Linked DNA regions of Homo sapiens. The protein of the gene in region 1 interacts with the protein of each later gene in a pairwise test. Each region holds a gene or a part of one and is shown in the gene's direction. Other genes may lie near its edges.

Evidence for each region. The genes of interacting proteins can lie anywhere in the genome.
Region 2: the proteins of LMTK2 (region 1) and PPM1K interact in a two-hybrid assay, tested with the Homo sapiens proteins (one study listed by BioGRID and IntAct).
Region 3: the proteins of LMTK2 (region 1) and CDC14A interact in a two-hybrid assay, tested with the Homo sapiens proteins (one study listed by BioGRID and IntAct).
Region 4: the proteins of LMTK2 (region 1) and PPP3CB interact in a two-hybrid assay, tested with the Homo sapiens proteins (one study listed by BioGRID and IntAct).

What each region holds. Positions count from the first base shown.
Region 1 is NC_000007.14:98,193,404-98,198,196, forward strand, and holds part of LMTK2 (serine/threonine-protein kinase LMTK2 precursor), read left to right. Parts: coding exon 1-1,169; intron 1,170-4,793. UniProt on the Homo sapiens protein: Phosphorylates PPP1C, phosphorylase b and CFTR.
Region 2 is NC_000004.12:88,266,685-88,271,477, reverse strand, and holds part of PPM1K (protein phosphatase Mn(2+)-dependent 1K), read left to right. Parts: intron 1-190; coding exon of another isoform or gene 191-383; intron 384-2,571; coding exon 2,572-2,737; intron 2,738-3,143; coding exon 3,144-3,288; intron 3,289-4,793. UniProt on the Homo sapiens protein: Serine/threonine-protein phosphatase component of macronutrients metabolism.
Region 3 is NC_000001.11:100,516,090-100,521,654, forward strand, and holds the end of CDC14A (dual specificity protein phosphatase CDC14A), read left to right. Parts: intron 1-2,161; coding exon 2,162-2,191; 3' UTR 2,192-4,188; downstream 4,189-5,565. UniProt on the Homo sapiens protein: Dual-specificity phosphatase. Required for centrosome separation and productive cytokinesis during cell division. Dephosphorylates SIRT2 around early anaphase.
Region 4 is NC_000010.11:73,471,148-73,475,940, reverse strand, and holds part of PPP3CB (serine/threonine-protein phosphatase 2B catalytic subunit beta isoform), read left to right. Parts: intron 1-910; coding exon 911-1,022; intron 1,023-4,327; coding exon 4,328-4,473; intron 4,474-4,731; coding exon 4,732-4,793. UniProt on the Homo sapiens protein: Calcium-dependent, calmodulin-stimulated protein phosphatase which plays an essential role in the transduction of intracellular Ca(2+)-mediated signals.

The sequences.
Region 1 (4,793 bases):
AGGACAGCTTGTCAGCACCCTTCCCAGCCTCTGAGCCGTCCCTGGAAACCCCGGACTCTCTGGAGTCAGTGGATGTCCACGAAGCGCTACTGGACTCTTTAGGATCTCACACTCCCCAGAAACTAGTGCCCCCCGATAAGCCGGCAGACAGTGGCTACGAAACAGAGAACTTGGAGTCTCCCGAGTGGACCTTGCATCCCGCTCCCGAGGGCACCGCAGACTCAGAACCAGCCACCACGGGCGATGGCGGCCACAGCGGTCTGCCTCCCAACCCGGTCATTGTCATCTCAGATGCCGGCGATGGTCACAGAGGCACAGAAGTGACCCCTGAGACGTTCACAGCTGGCTCCCAGGGTTCATACCGAGACTCTGCGTACTTCTCAGACAATGACTCTGAGCCCGAGAAAAGGTCTGAGGAGGTCCCGGGAACCTCCCCATCCGCCTTGGTGTTGGTACAGGAGCAGCCCCTACCCGAGCCAGTCCTCCCCGAGCAAAGTCCTGCTGCCCAGGATAGCTGCCTGGAAGCCAGAAAGAGCCAGCCAGATGAAAGTTGTCTGTCTGCTTTGCACAACTCCAGTGACCTGGAATTAAGAGCCACGCCGGAGCCAGCACAGACTGGTGTTCCCCAGCAGGTGCATCCCACGGAAGACGAGGCCAGCAGTCCCTGGAGTGTGCTGAATGCAGAACTTAGCAGCGGCGATGACTTCGAGACACAGGACGATCGCCCCTGCACCCTCGCTTCCACGGGGACCAACACGAACGAACTCCTTGCCTACACCAATTCTGCGCTGGACAAGTCCCTGTCCAGCCACTCCGAGGGCCCGAAGTTGAAGGAGCCGGACATCGAAGGGAAGTACCTGGGGAAACTCGGGGTGTCAGGGATGCTCGACCTCTCAGAGGACGGGATGGATGCAGACGAGGAGGACGAAAACAGCGACGACTCGGACGAGGACCTGCGGGCCTTCAACCTGCATAGCCTCAGCTCCGAGTCGGAGGACGAGACCGAGCACCCCGTGCCCATCATCCTCAGCAACGAGGACGGAAGGCACCTGCGGAGTCTGTTGAAGCCCACAGCGGCCAATGCCCCCGACCCACTGCCCGAGGACTGGAAGAAGGAAAAGAAGGCAGTCACGTTTTTCGATGATGTCACAGTCTACCTGTTTGACCAGGTATCTGTTCCCTCTAAATCATTTTCTATACACATCCATATAAGGATTCCAAAATGTGCTAGGAAATTGAGTGTGGTCTGTTTTCTAGTTGCCATTTTGAGGCAGCAGATTGTGATTACTCACAAAAAGTAATTTGGGGTTGGTTAGAGTTCTAAGAATATGCAGAAATGTCATTTGCTCAGGGAGTTCGTATTAAATTAAGAGAAAGAGACCCGAATGCTCTTCCTGGGTCTTCTAATGGAGTCTTCCTGAATTAGTCACCCTTTACACACCAAATTTTTACTGTTTTACTTTTTTATTTTTCTTTTGAGACAGCCTTGCTCTGTGGCCCAGGCTGGAATGCAGTGGTACAGTTGCAGCTCACTGCAGCCTTGAACTCCTGGGCTCAAGTGATCCTCCCACCTTCCATAATAGCTGGGCCCACAGGTTCATGCCACCATGGCTGGCTAAGGTTTTGGTGTTTTTTTTGTTTTGTTTTGTTTTTAATTTTTGTAGACACACGGTCTTGCTATGTTGCCTAGGCTGCTCTCAAACTCCTGGGCTCAAGCCATCCTCCCACCTCAGCCTCTCAAAGTTTTGGGATTACAGGCATGAGCCACTGCGCTTGGCCTCCAATTTTTAGAGCCTGACAATTGGCAGTAGGACCCACCACTTGGGTACAAGCCTGGAACCATGGCTGGCGTGCAGCCCTGGAGACAGCTCAGGAGAGGGGCCAACCAGAAGCCCTGCGGTGGGTGTCTGGAGGGTGTGACACACAGCAGGAGCGTCTGTGGTCCTTCTGCTCTGTCCCCTGACCTGTCCTCTTTCCCTGCTTTGGAGCAGGCAGCTTAGTGTGCACTGCTGAGTGGGCATGGATTTAGGCTCCTTTAAAAATGTAACAGCGGATAATTCAAGCATGCTTTAAAAAAAAAAAAAAAGTTCTTTTCATACTAGTCTTTGTAGCCCTTGAATTTGCTGCTTGCATCAGCTGGATTGTTGGGAGAGCTCAGTGGTGGGACATGAAAATGGGGTCCCCTCACCTTCTAGAAGGCGCAGGAGTCCTCGCCGTCTCCTTCACATTGCTTGCCCTCCCTTTTGCTCCATTCTGGGAACCCAGACCTTGGTCTCAGCCCCTGCGTGGCACCATCCCTCATGGGTCCGTGGCTATGGCGGGTCCAAGCACTGTTCCACCTCCTCCCCCAGGAGCTGCGTCTGTTGAACGTCACTTTATGCCTTGTTCCTCTGTGTTCTGTTCACTTTGGTTTTTATGATGTTTCTTTAAAAATCGTTAAATCACCCGCATTTGAGCTATAGCATATATGGCGGGGAAGTGGATGTTTAAAAAATGAAAAGTAAGGCCAGGCGCGGTGGCTTATGCCTGTAATCCCAGCACTTTGGGAGGCCAAGGTGGGCGGATCACCTGACGTCGGGAATTCAAGACCAGCCTGGGCAACATGGCGAAACCCCATCTCTACTAAAAATATAAAAATTAGCCAGTCACGGTAGGCAAGACTGCAGGCCCAGCTACTTGGGAGGCTGAGGCATGAGAATTGCTTGAACCTGGGAGGCAGAGGTTGCAGTGAGCCAAGATTGCACCACTGCACTCCAGCCTGGGTGACAGAGTGAGACCTGTCTCAGAAAAAAAAAAAAAAAAGCAGCCTCCTGAGCTCAGCCTGACCTCTTGAACCTGATTCTGCGAGGGGCCAGGAGGCCGTCTTTCTCTTTTCATTCCCCAGGTGGTTCCTAGGCAGATCTCGAACTCAGGAGCCTCTGAGCTCAGGGAGCCTGAGAAAACACGCTGCCGTTTTCTAGTAAGAGTGGAAGGGAGAAGGGATCACCTGGCCCCTCGGGTTTGTGTTTTGTTTTCAATGCATCCACATAGCCCTTTCTCCACCGTCTCTGTGAACTTGGATTATCGCTGCATTTCTCCATGGATGGGGTAATGTATAGGTGGGACGGAACTGTCAACTGTGCTCGGTGAGCAGTGCGGTTAGGAGCTAGGGAGCACGCTGTCCCCACTTCCTGAAAGCCTGGGGGTAGCTGGAGTAGTGAGAGGGACGCAGTCCCAGTGGAAGCAGCCTGTGGAGAAAACTCCCTGGGGCCGCAGAGTATGGGCCCCTTGCACAAGTCTTTGTGGAGGATGTTATGTTTTTCTGACTTTAGAAGACAGAATTGCAAAAGATGAAGATCTGTGACAAGGGCACTCTAGTTATGGGATGGAAGGTACAGAGATCAAATACCAGACATGCTTAATGGACGCGAGGCTTTGACAAGGAAGTTAGTGTCAAGGAGAAAGTCGGAAGGTGGGTCAGGGCCAGAAGAAAATGAGGAAGATCTTTCTGATGATCTGAAATTCGTTTGCTTATGCGTCTCATGCAGCATGCCTTGAAGCGACAGCCACCAAGCGTTCAGGCCGAGGACTGAGGGTTTCCTCCCACTCCTGCTTTCTTTTTTAATGAGCTGGTTTTGAAGTTGTGTAGTTTTTAAGCAGTTGAAGTATCTTGGCTCCAAACTTTTAACTGAGTGTTCATGGGATTGGGCAGCAATTGTTTCTTGGTTATATTACTATTTGTCAGTTCAGCAAATACTTAACCAGCACTTACCGTGTAAAGTAGTAAAGGCTGGTGAACAGTCTGTGGGTGCCAGCACCTTTATTATACATTGAGTCTTGTTTTGCTTCCCCATGTGGGGGTGGTTGTCACCATCTTCATGGAGAGGACCCTGAGGCTCAGAGTAGGTAAACTTTGCACAGGGTCTGGCCCCAGTGAGTAGCAGTGCTAGGGCTTGACCCAAGTCTCCTGGACCGAGCACAGAACTTTTCACCACTGAGCCCTGCCACCTCTTGCATGCACCTTTACAATCTGCAGCCTGGCATCGCATTCGACTTTTAGCACTTGCGATGTCCTTCCTCAGTGCACAGTGTTCTTGAGACAAAAGTAGCGGGTAATGATGCTTACTTGCAATTAGTGCGACAGGGTTCCCTCCAGCCTGATCCGTCATACTGTAAACAAGCACTGAAGGCTGGGCACAGTAGCTCATTCCCATAATCCTAACATTTTGGAAAGCTGAGGCAGGAGGATCGCTTAAGGCCAGGAGGTGAGACTGGTCTAGGCAGCATAATAAGAACCGATTTTTAAAAAATTGGCCAGTTGTGGTGGCCCGCACCTATAGTCTCACCTGCTCAGGAGGCTGAGGCAGGAGGATCGCTTAAACCCAGGAGTTTGAGAGTGCAGTGAGCTATGATTGTGTCACTGCACTGCAGCCGGGATGGCAGAGTGAGACCCTGTCTGAGAGGCTCCTGCTCTCCAGCTTTGAGGAATAAACATTCAGGGCTCCACCTAGGTTTTTTTGGTTGGTTTGGGTTTTGTTTGTTTGCTGGCACTGTCTTTGGTTTTGTTATCAGAGTAATTAATGCTGGTCTCATAAAATGAGTTGGGAAGTATTTCCTTCTCTGATAGTGTTTGGAAGAGATTATGTAGATTTGTTGATCTTTCCAAAAAATTGCTTTTGTTTTCATGGATTTTTTTTTCTTTTCTCTTTCGTTGATTTCTGCTTTGTCTTTATTATTTCCTTCCTTCTCCTTGCTTTGAATTTATTTTGCTTTTTCTAGAAAAGCTTAGAATTCGAGACCTTACTTCTTTTCTC
Region 2 (4,793 bases), on another chromosome or scaffold:
TTTCAACCTTAGAAACCACAAAATTAAGAAAGAAGTGTTACCCTGTGATGAAAAAATAGGCTCAACTACAAAATACCATCAACTGGAACAAACTGAGTTTTGGAATAATTGATTTGGCATCTCCTGGAATATTATATAATTTGCTAGTTAAATTTTCACCAAAATAAAAAACCCTTCCCTTATTTTGCAGCTCTTTCTCTGCTCTCCCCTGTGTTGCAGGTTTGTAATGTTTGAGCACAATTCCTGGGTGAAATTCGTATTTGCCTCTGTGCGTGTTATTTGTGGCAGAGAACTGTGCCTGGTCAGCAGCTCTAGACCTGGAGCCCGTGGACACTATATGCGGGGCTTCAGTGGAAAGAGAGATCTGCTTAATTTTGTCCCAGGTGAAGGAGTCCAGCGGTTCCTATCCTGGACTACGGGAAGGTTCCCACATCTCTTTGTCCCATTAGTTGAGATGACTTGCAGTAGAAATTGTCCAGTGAGTGTTAAGAACTTATTGAAAGATGTCTTAGTTTTCTAGTTTTGTTGTTAGGCAAAAAGTGAGAATTTTTACTTCCATGTTAAATGTTAAATGAAAATGAATGCTGATTTAATATTTACATTCTTAAATGCTTAGCAAATCAGAATTGACAGTTAGTTTTGAAGCCTTTCCTATAAATCCTGGGATTTTGGAACTGTGAAGTTGGGTTGGTAAAAACTCAAAGTCTTAAAATTCCTAGGTGACAGAGCCATAAATTACAAGCCTAAATAACTAAACTTCTACTTATGAAATTTTAACTCTTTTACTGTGGCCAATAATAAACCATTTTTAAGAAAACTATTGTAGATGGTTTAAACAAATGGAAGGAATATTAAATTCCCGGGACAGGTAGCATCTGAATAAATGCCGTGTTCCCTTATCTGGCTCTTTAAATCGTTTGAAATATCATAGTTAGTCAAACTGTAAAGATTCCACTGTTTCATAGTCGTTTGGGTAATTTAAAGTTACGAGTTAACATTTGTAATATAAATATCACTGATACTTATGCTAAAACATTTATGTTATATGGTGGACAAATGTATCTTTCAACATTGCAGAAATATTACATTGGCACGACAGTTCCAAAATCAAGAGAAAAATGGAAAGATAGTGCAACTATAAATGTTATTTCTCAAGAAAGTTCAGCATGACTATAAAAGATTAAGTAGAGTTTGTTCATGCTTTTCCATCTTACTTTTCTGATTAAAGCAGGCATTTTAATATACTGATTGGAAAAATCTATTTATGTATATATCTCCTTCCAATGCATTACTGATGAAGTTTTCAAAATTATCTTTTTGGGGAGAAAAAAAAAGCTTGGAAAGATTGAGTCTTAATCAGTCAAATTAGTAGCACTTCGTTTTTCCTAAATGTACCTTTAAAATCGAAGTCATCTTTGGAATGTTTTAAAGAGTTAACAGTGTTACTAAAGACAATACCTGCTTTAAATAAGTTATCTTTTCCGATTTCTTCCACTTTGTTTTATTTTTTAGCCCATAATTTCACAATATTCTCACTTTTGACAAGGCTCAATGCAAATTAACAATTTTTAACAAGTGGTAAAGAACTTAGGGCAGACACTGTTAGAGGAAATCAAAGGAAGATGCAGAAATGCAGTCTGAGTTGGATGGAGGAAACGGTGACCTCAAGCCCAGTAACAATGAATTTTATTTGTTATTAGAGAAAATTCATATTTGTGGGATGCTCTGGGCCCAAACAGGACCCCAGGAGTTGCAGCTGGCAGTACTGCCCTGCGTTTGAAGACTACCTCTTTGTATTACAACCTTCTGGAGTTAGGAGTGTTAACTACACCAAGTTTATGAGAAGCTAGAATGAACTTCATTCTCCACCTCCCCTCCCCCAGATTTTCTGCTCCTGTAATGATGGTTGTAACTTTGTTTCACGTCTAGGGAGGACAAAGATAAACAGAAAAGAATGTGAGCCTGTAACCATTTTAGGATTTTTTTGGTGAACATTTATAAAATTAAAACAGTTTTAGAAGCATACAGGGGTAGAATATGCAAATGGTATACCCTTGGCATGTCTCACTTAGCCTACTAACTGATAATATGTTCACAGCATAGGAGTGAAAAATGGAAGAGAAAACCTTCTAAATCCATAGACTATAGAAAAGTCAGCTTGCCTCCATGGGCTCAAGTAGACCTAAGTCATCCCACCATCATAGCCAACCTAATTAAATTTTAATACTTTCAGTCTGGACACCAGATATCCATGAAGGTGTTGTTATAAGTTCAAGTCAGCTCTACTTGATATGAATAGAGGCCATTTGTAGATAGTGATGCAGTGTTTGCCAAATAAGGTTAGCAACCTTTCCGTTTGCATGGAGACTTGTTACTGAATTAAATACTTGTTTCTCTGCATGCTGTTACTTACATAGTTCATTTGCATTTTATTTGCTTAGCTCTAGTTAAATTAGAATGATATATTCCAGCATTAGTTTATCATGCTTGTGTTTTATTTTGTAATAAAAATTCCATATCCAATCATTTGACTGTCACTAACTTGTACTCTTTTTTTCATAATACTTGTAGCAACTCTTCTGACCTCTGGGACTACTGCAACAGTAGCCCTATTGCGAGATGGTATTGAACTGGTTGTAGCCAGTGTTGGGGACAGCCGGGCTATTTTGTGTAGAAAAGGAAAACCCATGAAGCTGACCATTGACCATACTCCAGAAAGAAAAGATGAAAAAGAAAGGTACTACCACCACTGATCCATCATATCATTCTATGTGGATGATGTTTTTAGTTCATAATAGTTTTTAAACTGATGTCATGGTTAAGTTTAACAGTGACTTGGTTTTCTTTTTGTTTTTTTGAGACAGAGTCTCACTCTGTCGCCCAGGCTGGAGTGCAGTGGCGCAATCTTGGCTCACTGCAAGCTCCACCTCCCGGGTTCACACCATTCTCCTGCTTCAGCCTCCTGAGTAGCTGGGACTACAGGCGCCTGCCAACACGCTCGGCTAATTTTTTGTTTTTTAGTAGAGACGGGGTTTCACCGTGTTAGCCAGGATGGTCTCGATCTCCTGACCTCGTGATCTGCCCTCCTTGGCCTCCCAAAGGGTTTTCTACATATCACACCATTGTCATTTAACTTTTAACAGGATCAAGAAATGTGGTGGTTTTGTAGCTTGGAATAGTTTGGGGCAGCCTCACGTAAATGGCAGGCTTGCAATGACAAGAAGTATTGGAGATTTGGACCTTAAGACCAGTGGTGTCATAGCAGAACCTGAAACTAAGAGGATTAAGGTAAGAAAGGACCTGCAAACACTTGATAAACCTGCGGAGAGTGAATGTAGGATTGTCTCTGCTGCACCTTTCTTGGAAGCCTTAACTGAAGCCAAAATGATTTTTAAAAGGGAGTAATTTATGGAAGGATAAAAAAACTTTTCAGGTAAAATAAGATGCTACTATTCTGGCCTAATTTATTGTAGAGGACAAAACAATTCTCTTTTTCCCCCTTTTTAGGTTCTTAGTTGAGACACTTTCTTGAAAATAAAAGTCAGATTAACTACAACAACAACAAACAAACAAGCAGACATTTGCACGTGCTGAACCCATTGTACGGGAAAGGCCTCAGTTAAAAGTATTTCTCTTCCAAGGCAGTGGCTTAGGGGCTTTGCTTAAATTGTATTTAAATAGCCATAGATCCTGCATAGTGACAAGATAAAGAAGAGAACAGTTTCAGTCTTTTAAAAGTCAGGAAAATGTGGAGAGATAGTAAAACCTGTTCCCAGATTTCTCTGGTGCCTGCTGGTTCCTTCTCTGGGCCAATAAACAAGTGCTGTCTCCAGTAAAGAAGGACTGATGTCCTGCCACCAGGCAAGTAGAGGCTGAGGAAGTGTACCCCTGCCTTTTCAGTGACTTGACTTTAGCAATCCTCAATATTTCGGGGAGAAATATTTTGGCTTCCCTCAGTTTGAAGTGTTAGGTTTTTGTTTCACCCCAGCTATGGAATTCTCCTGGTGAAATGGTCCTGCTGTTCTTCCTCACCTGCACCCAATCAGCCAGCATCACCTGCACTCAATCATGCAGCATCACCTGCACCCAGTCATCCAGCATCACCTGCACACAATCAGCATCACCTGCATCCAATCAGCCAGCATCACCTGCACCCAAGCAATCAGCATCACCTGCACCCAGTCAGCCAGCATCACCTGCACCCAATCAGCCAGCATCACCCACACCCAATCAGCCAGCATCATCTGCACCCAATCAGCCAGCATCACCTGCACCCAATCAATCAGCATCACTTGCACCCAATCAGCCAGCATCATCTGCACCCAATCAGCCAGCATCACCCGCACCCAATCAGCCAGCATCACCTGCACCCAATCAGCATCACCTGCATCCAATCAGCATCACCTGCACCCAATCAGCATCACCTGCATCCAGTCAGCCAGCATCACCTGCACCCAATCAACCAGCATCACCTGCACCCAATCAGCATCACCTGCATCCAATCAGCATCACCTGCACCCAATCAGCAGCACCTGCACCCAGTCAACCAGCACCACCTGCACCCAATCAGCATCACCTGCACACAGCCAGCATCACCTGCACCCAATCAGCCAACATCACCTGCACCCAATCAGCCAACATCGCCTGCACCCAGTCATCTAGCATCACCTGCACCCAGTCATCCAGCATCACCTGCACCCAATCGGCCAGCATCACTTGCATCCAGTCAGCCAGCATCACCTGCACCCAATCAGCATCACCTGCACCCAATCAGCTAACACCTGCACCCAATC
Region 3 (5,565 bases), on another chromosome or scaffold:
GCCAGAGTTTTTGAGCTCTGTGGAAGTAAAGGCTTTGGATAGAAGACTAATGAATATATTCTCCATATGAATAATAGAAATCTTTAAAATGTTCTAGACTATTTCTGTTTTCCAGTTCACTGGGTACTGTGATTCACTAAATAAATATGTAAATAAATGAATATATATATGTGTGTGTTTATATATATAAATATATGCACACACACATATTTGCCCCTCTATATTGATGTACATATGAAATACTTTACCCTATAAAAAAGTTGGTTTAACAAAGGTCGCTTGTCTAATGTTTATTTGCTACATCTCTGTTTATTGATAATTGATGGAGCTTGCAAAAACAACTTTGTTCTAAGTTATATGCAGTTTGAAGAATTTCTGATTTCTGTTAGTGATAACATGCACAACTTTACTAATCGGAACAAAAGTAAAAGTTAAATATTCTCAAGAAAGCACTAGCTGAGCTACACACACACACATACACGCACAACATACCTTTGTGGCATTCTTATAGCTGGGGGACTTAACTGGCTCTGCCCTCTGACTGCTTGCCAGACTTAGAAGAAACCGAGAAAAAGCAGGTAGAAAAATGTTTATGCTCTAATTGCGAGTGTGGTAGCTGGCGTCCCTCAAGTGGAATGTATATGGGCTTCAAGGCTTTTGACCAACTTCACTGGACTTTCTTAGGGTCTTACCTCTTTTATTCGCACTGTGGGTTCAGGTATATTTATAGTATAGTGCTCTGATTCTTGATCATCTCACACCTATTTTGAAGTATTAGCATGAACCACATACAAGAAAGTCAATAGCCAAACCTTTTCCATTCTTCCTACAGCTCTTGAAACTGGCAGCCTTGAGAACCACCCATTTCCCTTACTACCTCTCACCTAAGCCTTTCCTGGTGCACGATGTTAACTTTACACTATGTATATTACTATTTAATGTCGACACCGCTGTCTTTTCATTTCACATCTGTTATGACATTGTGGCTTTCGCCCTTTGCGGTCAGGGACCATAACTCTTTGACATACTGTGTTAACAGGGACTTACTCAGGAACAGCCATTTGGCTGTTCATGGGGTGTAAAATTCACTGCAGTTTTGAAGCTGAGAAAAGATAGCTTGAATCCTTTTGTAAGTTCTTTGGAAAATGGACAGATTCTTTTTTACTGATAACCTATATCATCACCAAAATGGACCTGTCTTATAATTGACTAGACCTGTTAATGAAATGTTACAGACTAATTTGAGAAATAATTATTGGGTGGGAGAAAAGGGCATTTACTAGAAAATCAAGTAAACTTTGTTATCCTCAGGTATTTAATTGGAAGAATTGAGCAAAAAATTTGTTAATGTTTAGATTGATTTATGTTCCTTTTTCTAATCACTGTTTCCTGCTAAAAAAAATAACTGTTTGGCAAACTTTCTGTAACTCTCTATCTTTTCCTGGTTTATGTCTGTTGTCCCAGGCATTCTGATTACATATCCCAATCACAATCCTTTTATATGTTAGTATCTAATGTGATGTGGAAGAATTTGTATGGTTTACTTGAAAATTGCCTATTGTTTATTAAATTCCGACAGCAAGACTCTTCTGCATAAATGTTTTTGGGTCTTAAGATCAGATTTCAAGCTGGTAGTACTTCATTTCCCCTTAAGGGAAAGGATGTGTAAGATATTTATAAATTCAAGCATGCTTAAGGAATTTATTTAAATGGCTGCTAATTCTACTGCATTAGAAGCATGCCATTGATATGTACTGAATTAAATTTAAGGATATATCATCTCAAAGTATATTCTAGTAATCTTTAATTAGTTAAAAGTATCTTTTAATATTGTTAAGTAAAACTCATTAATTGTAGAAATGCTTAGAGATGAGTTTAGGCTACCTACCGATTTTTAAATTAAAACTTAATTTTTTAATCACTATAAATAAATTAGTAAACCTTTTAAAATATAAAGTTTTCTTACAATCACTTTGCGTAATTGAATATCTCATTCTTACCTAGCTAATGCTTTGTGTCTCCTGTCTTTTTGTTTCTGTTTTGGCTTAGTTTATTTCATTGATCTCTAAGCTGTCTTGTGTGGAAGGGAGAAGCTGCATGACTTGCTAGAAGTTTTACATGTGATGGAATTTAACCTCAGTTTATGTCTCTCCCTGCACAGTCCCTTCAGTCTGAATATGTTCATTACTAAGGCCTTGCCACTCCAGTGAAAGCTGTTCTTCTCTTAGACACAATTTCTTCATCTGGACGAGCAGTGGAGAGGGAAAGCAACTTCTTGCTGGAAGAATATCTCTGCCTTCTTACCTTAAATTAAAAAGAGCACTAAGATAACACCTTCAAGAGACTTGAAAACAGAAAACTGGTTAATGACTACTATAAATGCACTGAAACTATGTTTATGGAGATTTCCATACTTTTAAAGACAGTTTTAATGTTGAATTTGGTATTTTGAAGGGTTATTTTTAATGTATTTTGGTAATACATTTATTATTATATTTACATGTACAGTGTTACATTATATATGTATTGTGAACTTTAAAAGACTATTTTGATAAATTTATAAATATATAAAATTATGTAAAAACTACACTATATTTTGATTTAGATTTTCCTGCTGTTTGCTACCAAAAATTTGTATTTTAAATCTGTTTAGTTTTAGTATGGTTTTGTCTCTAATGAATAAATAATTCCTTCTTATTAAGAAGAAGTAAGGGAGAAAGTTTTTAGAAAGTGATTTTTATGCTCGCACTATAAATATGGCAGGTCAGTTCATTCTTTTGGGAAGTCAGTTTAGTTACACTGAGTTTATCCAAGTTTATCTCTACCAAGAGTATAATGGCATGGGATGGCTTATTTAGGACAATTCCCTTTCCTATTGTTTTTGTTGCTGAGCCAATTTGAGTTAGTTTTGCATCCTGGGGGGCTTTAAAATACAGCATGCAGTGAAAGATCAGAATTCACTGAATATTTCTTCTGAGAGCATGGTTTCATGGTTTTTCTCTATGAAATGACTCAATATTCCAAATGTTTTTTTTTCCTTCCTCCTTTCAAAAGAGTTCTTAACCCAATTAGGATATCCTGCTTTGGGTATGAGGTTGTTGTTGCCTGTAATCACACATGGTTTGACATCAGTTTTAAATCAATGGAGAGAAAAAACTGAAAAAGATGCTGCTAAGTAGTTCTCTGTATTAAAGGAGATATTTTTAAAACAGGGTACAACCCCCTGCTGCACACGCTAGCATATCTGGAACCTACTATGAAAATGAAAGGACCCTTATAGGTACTCACAGCCCTTTCATGTAAGTATGATCTGATATTTAGGTCTTCAGAAGCCTGTAGGTTTCATTTCTATGAGGAATCGAGGAGCGTTACATCCTGATATCCTTCCAGGCTGCTTAAGAATGGACTGCTTCGACACTGAAAGTGCTAGTTAAATGGATTCATATGAAGTGCTTTACTCCCAACCATTGAGTTATTTATAATGTATTTATTAGGGGAGGGTACCTTGAGTCTATTATATATGCTTCATCAAAACATCTTGTTCATGTTTTATGTTTTTAAAAAAGGCATTTGAATGAATGTTTGACTCAGGTTTGTTAAATTAACCTTCAGTAACTGCAGTACCAAAAATTACACTCAACTGATGAAAAAAACGAATTGTATGATTTAGGAATCAAAAACTAAAATAAGTGGAATTATGTATCTTTTCTAAAGTTAAAAAAGTAAAATATTTTATTATGAGTTATTATAAAAATTGGTTAATTGTATAGGAAGATGACAGTATTTTTTTCAAGTTATCATAAAAAGTAATTCAGATGACATTTGAGAAGTAGGGGAAAGGGAATCATGTTGACAGTTTTAGTTCTGTGAACACTAATTTGTGTGAAGCTATTAAAATGATTGTAAAGTTGACTACTGTAAATTTCCCATAATTATGTGTGTATATGTGTCATATGTATGTACATGTATATGTCTAAAAATTACTTTACACATGTGCCTACATAGACACACCAAGAAGTGGATGTATATAATATAGAAAGTATATAGCAAAGTAATTTTACTCTGATAATAAAAATTGTTTGACATGTATTTTGTTATGAATAGTTTATCTTCCAAAAGATATTTTGCTCTATTTTAAAGTGTAGAAGAATACACTGCTAATAAATAATAAAAGTTTTATTCAATTTACTTATTTTTTGGTGTTTATAATTTGAATTTTTGAGTTATCAATGTACTGAAGTCTCTTTATAATTTTATTTTTGGTTCAGTGTGGTCAGTGCCTTGAGTGTTTCAAGATCTCTATTCTGGATTTTAGTTTAGCTTTTATTGACTTTCTAGGTTGTGGCCATTGCCTGAAATACATGACAGTGAGCTCACAGAAACCTTATACTTTGAATTTCACAAAAATCATATAATGTTAGGTTCTTGCTTGCTTTCCCTTTATTTTTTTTACTGTCAATAAAATACTGATCCTGATCAGTGTTTTGGGTCCTGCTTAGTCATTTATGACTACTGATGACTATTGTGTGATTGATCACCAGTTCCTTTTGAAAAAGAATGCCATTTTTCCTAAATGAGAAATTATAGAAATCAGTTAGAAGAAACCTCACACCTGTTGGATCTATGCCCTGAAAAGTCAGTTTGGGAGGAAGAAGCTACACTATTTATTGGAGATATTTTATATAGTAAACTGGATCTCTTTGGGTTATGATGATTCTGAGGTTTTTTTTTCCTTAAATTTTTTTTTTTTTTTTTTTTAGAATGCAAAGGAAAGTTTGTGGGTGAGAAGGTAGTTTTACATTTGGAATTGGGATCTGCAAATAGCTGTCCTAACAACACTGCATGAAACAATTGGGGTACCAAGGTTTTCATAGGACCACATCTTAAAGAAGGAGATTTCTTATGAATTAATGAACCTGTTTCACAGGGCAGAAGGAAATCTTTTTTTGTACAGATTGGGTTTTTATGAAAAAGAAAGTAAAAAAAACAAATCAATTAGCTGGTTTCAGCAGATTTCTCACCTATTGAGTTTACCTGTTTCTTTTTTATCCTTAGATGTAAAATGATTTATAAATCTCAAAACACACCTGGGAAAACTATCTATGTGATTCAAATATAGCAGGAACATGAATTTACCAACTATACACAAATGTATTTTGAAAATTGTTTTTACTTCTATGCTTTCTTCAGTGACATGTTAAACCATTAATATGTTGAGTCTAATTAAACCAGTTGTTAGTATATAAGCTGAACAGGACTCCGTGGGCTTCATGTCATATAAGAAGTCTGTACTCGTTCCAAAAGTCATAAGGCAGAGTCCCCTTTGCAACACTTAGCAAAGCAAGAATTTGGTCACTGTATGTCTCCTCAGAAGATTAATTAGGGACAATTCCAATTACAGAAGTATATAATTTACAGCAGAAAACTCCTTTATTTACACATAGGTTGCATAGGGTTGACAACTATGGCATATAATGGAAAGTAGAAAATAATTGTATTAAGTTATTTTGAGCTGAATTGAAATGTTAATATATTCCCACCCAGTTCCCTCTCTATGGATTGAAT
Region 4 (4,793 bases), on another chromosome or scaffold:
AGGCTGCAGTGAGCAGTAATTGTGCCATTGCACTCCAACCTGGGTGACAGTGAGACCTTGTCTCTAAAAATAAAAAAGTTTGTTTTTTCTTTTTGCATATGATTATATAAACCATGCTTATTTCCATATCAAATATTTCTTCCTTTTTTAAGCAAATAAGTAAAATGTGAGTCTCTTTCTTATGTTAAATCTATTTAGAGAATAGCATCTGCTATAATGTTTAATAATATTTTTATTTGAAAAATTACATTTGCATTGAATTAGTTCAGATAATAAGCACTTACCATATGTAAGGCAATATTCATAATCAATGAAACAAACATAAAACATGGACCTTCCCTTCATGGGCAGCATGGCATAATGCTTAAGATCAGAGGATCAGAATCCTATCTCCATCACTTAGAAGTTTTGTGGTTTTGGACAAGTTACTTGAGATCTTTGCTTCAGTTTCTCATTTGTAAAATAAAGATGATATTACATACTTCATAGTGTTGTTTGAGGAATAAATTAGGGGAATTATATAGTGCTTCACATATTGTAAGTACTTAATAAATGTTAGCTGCTGTTATTTTGACAGTATTATTTACTAATACGCATCTGTAGACCAGTGTGCTAATTGTTTTTATATTGGGCAGTCTGTAAATCCAAAGTAATTAAATAGATTGTTTGACTCATTCATTCAACAAATATTTATTGCTCTTCTCCTATTTGCTAGGTACTCTTCTGGGAGTGGAGAATCAAAAGTGAATAAGATGACAAAATCTGTGATTTTGTGGTGCTTATATTTTAGTAAGGGACAAAGAAAGATAATAGAGGATGGTAAGGGTAGTAGAGGAAAAGGAGCAAAGATCAAGCAGCTTCATTAAACAAAAGTACAAGATAAATTCACTAGAAAAATTTTCTTTTGCAGTGTGTCTTATATTTATGGGTTCTGAAGATTCTATACCCAAGCACATTATTTCTTCTGAGAGGCAACCATGAATGCAGACACCTTACTGAATATTTTACCTTTAAGCAGGAATGTGAGTACTGCCAGAAGAAATGTTTTCACTTCCTCAGTATTCTTTTGGACTTAAGTGGGTAGTAAGAGTTTTGAAGACTTTACAGTGCAACATGTAAGGACAGATTTCATGTCCACACATAAAGCTTTGAGGAAAGTTGTCGAGCACTCTCTGGTGTTTAATGGTATTAAGAAGTTTTTGGTGGGGCATGGTGGTTCACGCCTGTAATCCCAGCACTTTGGGAGGCCCAGGCAGGGGGATTGCCTGAGCTCAGGAGTTGGAGACCAGCCTGGCCAACATGGTGAAACCCCATCTCCACCAAAAATACAAAAAAAAAAAATTAGCTGGGTGTGGCGGCACACTCTTGTAGTCCCAGCTGCTCAGGAGGCTGAGGTGGGAGGATCGCTTGAGCCTGGGAATCGGAGGTCATAGTGAGCTGAGATCATGCCACTGCACGGACAATTGCCTGGGCAATAGAGTCAGACCCTGTCTCAAAAAAAAAAATTTTTTTTCATTTCAGAATTTCTTATTATGTTTAACTTTTACAAACATACTTAGAGTTTTATATATAAGTTTTAATGTTACAATTAATTTTTCTAAGCCAGGCACGGTAGCTCACGCTTGTAATCCCAGCACTTTGGGAGGCCGAGGCGGGTGGATCACCTGAGGTCAGGAGTTCAAGACCAGCCTGGCCAACACGGCAAAACCCCATCTCCTAAAAATACAAAAATTAGCCAGGCGTGGTGACATGTGCCTGTAATCCCAGGTACTCAGGAGGCTGAGGCAGGAGAATCACTTGAACCTGGGAGGCGGAGGTTGCAGTGAGCCGAGATCGCGCCATTGTACTCCAGCCTGGGCAACAAGAGCGAAACTCTGTCTCAGGAAAAAAAAATGTATATATTTTTTCTAACAGGAAAAAATAAAAACCAAAAGAAAAAAATGTTATTTTGCATTGGAGATTTTTGTCCTTCAATCTTGAGGCATTCCTGTGAGGAATCCTAACAAATTGTTTATCCTGTTACCATTGCAGATCATTTCAATCATGCTATTAATGATTGAAATTCTTCTTAAAATTTTTTTGTTTTTTTAAATATCATTGTTTTAAGACTAGTCAGGTACAGTTGGTGAAATTCTTAACCTGCAATGTTTATCCCTTTTCTCTCTCAAATTATTATAGCAATGGTAATCTAATACCTGTAAGTAACCATATGTTACAGAACAAGATTAGGCCTTTTTCACACCTCAAACCTTTGTGCTTTTTTATTATTTTTGTTATTTTTATTTTTTTTTTGAGACAGTCTCGCTCTGTCGCCCTGGCTGGAGTGCAGTGGTACAATCTCGGCTCACAGCAACCTCCTCCCGGGTTCAAGTATTCTCCTGCCTTAGCCTCCCAAGTAGCTGAAATTACAGGCATGCGCCACCACGTCCTGCTAATTTTTGTATTTTTGGTAGAGGCGGTGTTTCACCATGTTGGCCAGGCTGGTCTCTTAACTCCTGACCTCAAGTAATCCACCTGCCTCGTCCTCCCAAAGTGCTGGGATTACAGGTGTGAACCACCGCATCTGGCCTGCCTTTGTGCTTTTTAAGTTAATATTTATGACTGTATTAAGTAGAGTTAAATTCTAAAAGCAGAAATAATTTCAACGTTTTGAGACTCAAAACATGATCCAATAAAGGTCATACTAAGTAGAGACTTGCAGCAACAGGAGAAAAATACAGTGATGGGTAGTGGCAGAAGTGGCATACTCTTATAACTTCAAGGATCAGGCAGTTAACCTAAATGAGTAAGATAAGACCTGGAAAGTGCATGCTTGACCTAAAAGCAGTCAAATTAGAATTTTTATTAAACCACAGTGCTAGAAAACAGAGTCGTTAGCAGACTGCCAGTGTAGAATCTCTGGTTGCTGGATATATATATAGTTTTTTTAATATTTGAATATTACAGTATTAAAACAGGAAATAGGAACTAAGTTCTTTTTCTTTGCCTAGATAAATAACAAACCACCTACCAAAATCTCATCAAAACCAAAATAGGAATTTAAAGTTGTAAAGGAGCAAATGAAAGTGCATGATATCTCTCTAAAAGTAAATGATAGTTTGATTTGGTAGAGTTTTGTCTTTCTTGTGTTTCTATATTGGCTTCCTGCTTCACTGCCCATTTTAAAGTATTCATTGTAGGCAAGAGGAACCCCTCAGCTTTTCTGACATGAGCATGCTATTATCTTTTATTTTTCAGAAAAAATGGATGAACCTTGAATTTTGTTGTGATGATGTAGTCATCTTGCCTGTAATAAGAATAAAGTAGTCATTGACTCTTAGAATAAAATAAAGCAAGTATTAAAATGATTTTAACCTCAAGTACAGTTCTAATTTTGCCTTATTTGGCCGATAAAGGTGAAGGGTTGAGCTGTTTTTAAGAGATTTCTTTCTTTTTTTTTTTTTTTTGAGACAGAGTCTTGCTCTGTCGCCCAGGCTGGAGTGCAAGTGGCACGATCTCGGCCCACTGCAGCCTCCACCTCCTGGGTTCAAGTGATTCTTGTTCCTCACCCATTGAGTCTCTGGGATTACAGGTGCACACCAGCATGCCTGGCTAATTTTTGTATTTTTAGTAGAGACAGTGTTCTGCCATGTTGGCCAGACTGGTCTCAAACTCCTGGCCTCAAGCGATCTGCCTGCTTTGGCCTGTCAAAGTGCTGGGATTACAGGCGTGAGCCACCGTGCCTGGCCTGTTTTTAGAGATTTGACTGACTTATTTTTAACAATACGTGATGACTTTTCTGTCATCCAAAATAATTTTAGAGAGCAAATATTTTGCTTCATAAGACATAACATCATCGAGAATAATTTTAGAGAGAGCAAATATTTTGTCTTCATAAGACAGATAACTTTGCATATTTTTGTTGATTCTTATAGGGGAAGATGCTTTCCTTAAAAAAATTGTGTGCAGTAAGATTTATTCTCTGTGGTATTTACTTCTGTGACTTTTGACACTGCATAGAGTTGCCCACTACCACTATCATGATACAGAAAAGTTTTATCATGCCATAAGTTCTCTCTTGCTACCTTTTTATAGTCACCCCTTCACTCACTCTGAAGCCCTGGCCACCACTTTGCTGTTTACTGTCTATAATTTTCTTGCCATCTGTCTGTCTGTCTGTCTGGGCTATTACTACAGTTGAAACTGTAACTATCTCAATTTCATTATAAATAGCTATAAGATATAAAGGAGGGGAGAGAACAAGAAATAAAAATCTAATATATATGTTTTTAAAATGGTCACACCACCACCAGTAATGTAATTTTCAATTAGTTTTTTGTTTTTCTAGGTAAAATTAAGTATTCGGAAAGAGTCTATGAAGCTTGTATGGAAGCTTTTGATAGTTTGCCTCTTGCTGCACTTTTAAACCAACAGTTTCTTTGTGTTCATGGTGGACTTTCACCAGAAATACACACACTGGATGATATTAGGAGAGTAAGTATATATTTTACTTCCGAGATTGATTTCTATTTATAGTACATTGTTGAGTAGAGCAGAAGTTTCAAACTTCACTTCACTGCCAAGATTAGGTAATAGTAAAAATTAGTATACTGATATCTTAAGGAAATAACTTCTGTTTATTCACAATAATATAGTATGAACTGTATTCAAAGTTGGTATCGTTTTCCTATGCACATTTTATCCTTACTTTTTGATGAGTTACTTCTGTTCTTTCTTTTCTTTCTTTCACAGTTAGATAGATTCAAAGAGCCACCTGCATTTGGACCAATGTGTGACTTGTTATGGTCCGATCC